Linked DNA regions of Homo sapiens: region 2 is linked to region 1. Evidence: fine-mapped expression QTL. Tissue or cell type: whole blood. Region 1 holds a variant in brackets; the other region holds the start of a gene. All regions are shown on one strand. Distances are between the middles of the regions.

Region 1 (2,761 bases):
CACTTGGCCTCAGTGACTGAAGGAGGCATGGCACGTGACCCAGTCAGAGCACCGAGGTGAGGTGCAACCCAAGGTGGACAGGACTATTAAGAGAGAGACATGCGCTCTTTTTTACCCCTCTACTCTCCCTGAACCTGGAAGAAAATGGGTTTGGGATTGCAGCTTGCCATTTGCCATCACAGGAACCTGGGAGAGTAAAGCCACACGAAGGACAGTGAAGCTGAGAACTGGCAAGATATTGTGTCCTTATGACACTTTTTGGAGGCCCAGGATCCAGCTGTGTGTCTGAATTTTCAGGTTATGTTAGCCAATAGATCCCATTTTTCTTAGATTTAAGTTTTCTTTCACTTGTAATCAATAGTCCTAACTGATAATTAAAATGGAGAACCATACATTTCAGTCTTGAAGAGACTTATCTCATTCTACAGGCAGAGACGGACACTGAGATCCAGGGAAGTAGCTTTCCCAGGTCCTCTGCTAGCTGGTAGTGTAGCCAGGACTAGCACCCAGGTCTCCTGCTTTCTCATGTGATGTTTTCACTGCACCATGGAGAAAATTAAAAAATAATTATGAAACACATTGGACTGATTTAAAACTTTTAATTAAAACTCTGCTCTAATTAAAAGCTTATTGGGTATTATACTCAAAAAATTCATAATTAATATTTTAAATCATTCTTTACATTGTTACCTAGAATATAAGCAACTTAAAAATACATTAATAAATTAAATTTTTCAGAAATGTGCTTGTGGTCTGCTGTAGCAGCAATAGAAATAGCCCAACAAAATAGCTTAAAATGTTTTATTAAGTATATATAATATTACAGGGTAATATTTACAAAGTTATGTTTTTTTTTAAATAAAAAAGTACCTTGGCAAAGATTGCAGATATTCAAAGCTTTAAACAGTGATAAATTGATTTAATACATATAAAAAAAAAAACCTTTAACGGTAACACAGCTGTAAAACAACTTTGGTCTTCAAATCACTGCAAAAAAATGGCTACTGACAAATAGCACACCTTTAATTGCTATGCAAAAAAGCTCCAAGAGAGGATCTTGCACATAGCAACACTGGAGTTCTCTTTATTTAGAATGGTTAATAGATATTTATACGATGTGGGATCTAATTCTCAACAATGGCTTTTTGTAAATAATGCTCCATTTAATAAAAACAAAATGTTTTCTTCTCTCACCAGTCATGATAACAACACTTTTAAGATTTAAGATGTTGTCTTACAGAGGAGCTTAGTACAAATGCTTTCTTTTTTTCAAAAAGAGAAATTTATGAGAAAGCTGGTCTTCAATGATCTTAATTAAGAACTGTCAAAGCTAAAGGCAGAAAAACTGCCTGGTCACTC[A/C]CTGCTCATCTCTTCAAAGTTACCTGGATTATCCCTATTAGTCACTGAAAATGACCTAACAAAGGACCCCAGCAGGTGATGGCAGTTAGTAATTTTAAAATATGACACAAGTAAAACTGTTTATAAAAAAATCCCTCAACCAAATAAAATACAATAAAAAATAAACGGTTGCCCGACAATCATTTCTCCAGTTTCCAACAACAGGTAAATTAAGGAGTATGTGTTTCCATACATACACCACAGATCCCCATTTTTGAATACCCATTTTAAGACAAGAGAAACCTAGAAGGTTGATTACAGCTTAATTTTTATTACTGAGATGGAGGAGTAAACTTATCGTGTTTTGAGCTTTGTTAGTGCAAATAACAATTTGGTGGTCACTTACTAAATTGACTATAGCATCCTGAAAAAAGAAATATTTCCAATTACGGGATAGCCCTGTTATTTTAATTCTGACATTCTTAGGGATTTAAACAGAATGGACCTGGAGTTTCCAGGAGAAAAATAATCACCTTTGAAGGTTTTTAGAGCATGTGAAATTAGTCAAAAAAAAAAAAAAAAAAAAAAAAAAAAAAAACAAAAAAAAAAAACAGAAAGAAAGAAAACTCTCAAGCTCACCCTATTAAAAAGTGATAAATCTAAATACAGCCAACTCTCAATCATTTAACTTATGTACCTAGCTTCTGATGTATGCAAAACACTGCAGGAAGAGAGAATGAAAGAAAGAAAAGCTCTAGCTATAGAAGGAATTTTAAAATCAAGGAGAAGAGCAAGGCCAAAAAACTAATAGAACTAAGCAGAGATGCATAAAGTACTATAGGAATGGTAAGTTAAGAGACAAAAGAGCAGCTACACAGATGAAGAGGAACTGCAAAGGAGAATGTTTTGAAGGAGAAGACAAATAGAATTTGGCAAAAGTAGCTGGAAAGGTTGTTGCAGAAAAGGACAAATGGTGTCACTGTGAGAACACACAATAAATAAAACTGAATGGAAGAGTCAACAGCAGAAACTGGGATCAGGGAGTAAAAAGCATATTATGGGACAAAACAGATACATGATGTGCAAAACACTGTCTGCAATTTAAATGTGATGTGATGGAATTTGGGAGCCATTACAAATCTGATTTAAAGAGAAGGAACTGGCCCAATGATGCCCAAGCAGGAGGACTCCTGCTTCTGTGGTCACTTATCCAGAGAAGCTGACAACTAGTGAGAGCAAGAGTTGGTTTCATCTGGCATTTCCCCCACTATCTCTGGTGGCATTGTCTAGGGCAGTGAATGCCTCAAAAGGCAGGCAGCATTAAAGAGAACACAATGGATGGATGAGATCCAAGAGCGAACCCCAAATAAATGAGAGTTTACTACATATTAAAAGGTACAACTTTAGTTTATAAAAAATTTTA
Region 2 (2,500 bases), 47 kb after region 1:
TCTTGGAAATACCTAAAGTCACAAGCCTTTAGGAACGGCACACCGAGGCTAATAATCAGTTTAAAATCGAATTAATTTAGCATTCTAGAATAAATGTAACAATTGCTGTCACTGGTGCTCAAGCTGAATTCTGAATCTTATAAAAGTTCACAAAAGGCTCTATGGATGTGAAGTGTGACAGGCACTCACTGTAGAGCTACGAATGTTTCTATTCCTTGCTCAGTTTTTACAGACGAAGCACACGTTTTACAAAAGCGAAATGGATTCCAAAAGCTCGGGGTGGGGGTGGGGGGGTGGAGGTTCTTTGGCGTCGAAAAACACCAAATCCCATTCTGCTGCACATGTTTTGACTGGAGGTTACTGTCTTCCTATTTCAGGCGAAAACCAGATTACTTTTAAAACGGTTCCCCCAAATAAAGTGGGAAAAACTTCAACGTACAATTTAGAATGTATGCAAGTGGCTGATGGGGCGTGAGGGTCACGAGAAAGGAAGAGTTTCCAGCAAGCTTATTTTTAGGATTAAAAACGACAGCAAAAATTACACGGCCGGAAGATTCTTCTGATTGAATGCTGAGTTGAAAATGAAACTTAATTGTGTCCTTTACGTCCTCTTCGCTCCTATGTTCATGTGGGAGGCAAACGGCAGAAACCCCTTCTCACCGACTTCGCCAAAATGCGCACTTCCATCGCAAGAGGCCCGGGCCCTCCCACTCTCCCTCCCTCAACCCCAAATGCGTCTAAGCACTGAGAAGGGAGAGGGGTGCGAAAGAAGGGGATCCCTAGCAGCTGCAGCCCCTTGCCTCTGATCGCGCCCTTTCTTGCTAGTTAATTTTTGCGCGAGGTGCGCGGTTTGGAGTCTTCCTGTGTGTGTGCATTTGGAGATGGAGAACCGGGTGGAGGAGATGAGCCCCGCTCTCACCCAGGGGGAAGAAGACGACCAGGGAAAGGAAGGGAGGAAGAAGGGGGGCGCCCGATTCCCCGTGGGGCCCTCCCACGTCTGCACTTCGGGCGCTCAGGGCCCGAGTGTTCTGCGCCCCGGCCACCCTCTTCAGGGCGCCGCCGGGCTGGCTGGGGCGCAGCCCACACGCCCGCGGGGGCGAAGCGACAGCAGCCGCAGGGCTGGGAGCGAGGAGCCACTCACCGCAGCACGCCGAGCCCAGCAACAGCGCCGCTACCAGGGGCCACATCTCCGCGCCCGCCGCGGGGTCGCCGCCGCCGCCGCAGGTGTCCGGAGCAGCAGCCGCCGCCGCCGTTACAGGCAGGACCGACCGCCGCCGCGCGTCACAGGCAGGACCCACTGCCCAGGCTGCACGGCCGCGCGCACGCGCGCTCCCACTGCTTCCCGCCCGCTCCCCCGCCTGCTCCCCGCCCGCGAGAGCCGCGCACGCGCACTCGGCCCCGCCCCGCAACCGCTGCTGTTGACGCGGCGCCCTCCCCAGTCGCAGGCTCCAGACCCGGGGCCCGCCTGCCCGCTCCACGGAGGCCGGATGCCTGCTCCAGGGCGGTGGCACGCGCCGCGCTTCCAGGTCACGTCCTGTCGCACCCGCCCGCCCCTGGGGTCCGCGTGCTCGCCCGCCGCAGGAGGCTGAACCCTGTGTTCCCACGCTCGCCGGGGACCTCATTGCACCCGTTCCTGTCCGCGGGTCGGTTCCTGCCTTTCGCGCGGCGCTGGGCCCCACTGTCCTCTCTCTCTACTTTTCTCCTCTTTGCTTTCACTCCCACCCTCGCGCTTCAGGGGCCGGGTCCCGTCCCGCCCCAGCCCGCGTCTCTCCCTGGACCCGACGTCCGGCTGCGCGCGTGGACCAGGACACCTAGGCTTTCACCAGCGCCCGTTTCCTCCGGACGCGGCCGTCTAGCGCCGAAGCGGTCCCTGAGCCCGAGGCCGCCACGCCCAGGGCAGGGCGGTGGTCGGGTACCTGCCCGCAGGGAGCTTCCACTCGCCCCTCGCGGGCTCTGCGTTCGGCTCGTCTACTCGCTCTGCTCTTCCCTATGCGGTTCTCTTCCCTCTTTCTCACTTGGTTCTTTAGTGTTTTCATCCTCTGATCAGGGTTAATCAAACAAGTTCCATTCACGGTGGTAAACATTGTTACCTGTGAACACCGCCACCACCGGGACTAGCGAGCATTGTCGCAAACAGGCATTAGCAGCGTATCCAACACATCCCCACCAGCAAGGTTATTGAGCTTGGTTTGTGACTGCCCCATGTGCAGCCCTCTGCGCTGCGCTTGGGTTTAACATGCTTGAAAAATGGGTTCGAAATGTGGCCGCAAGCCACAATAGGGACAAGGCTTTTGAATTTATCGCTGAATCACACAGGCCACATCATTCATCCTGAAGCAAAAGTCTTTTAAAGATACTTTTAACCGTTATCCTAACTGATGTACTCTCTTATCAAAAAGTCAGGCTCTGGTGGCTGCTCTAATGGAGTGCACATCCTGTCCACCTCCTTGATTGTTTTCCTCCTACCTCCTGGGAAAGAAAGCAATTTCCCACCACAATA

What was found. PIP is the estimated chance that this variant, and not a neighbour inherited with it, causes the effect.
Region 2: it holds the start of CD47, and the variant in region 1 is fine-mapped to the expression of CD47 in whole blood (TOPMed, PIP above 0.99).

The regions. Positions count from the first base shown.
Region 1 is chr3:108,042,512-108,045,272 of GRCh38, forward strand. It overlaps CD47 (CD47 molecule), which reads right to left. Exons shown (of 11, transcript NM_001777.4): 11 at 580-2,761. Among named protein-coding and RNA genes, the nearest start is that of CD47, 47 kb to the right of the region's middle. The variant A/C (reference allele first, on the strand shown) is at 1,360.
Region 2 is chr3:108,089,722-108,092,221 of GRCh38, forward strand. It overlaps CD47 (CD47 molecule), which reads right to left and starts at 1,310. Exons shown (of 11, transcript NM_001777.4): 1 at 1,142-1,310. The coding sequence starts at 1,187. RefSeq lists silencers at 1,034-1,783, 1,804-1,853, 1,864-1,923.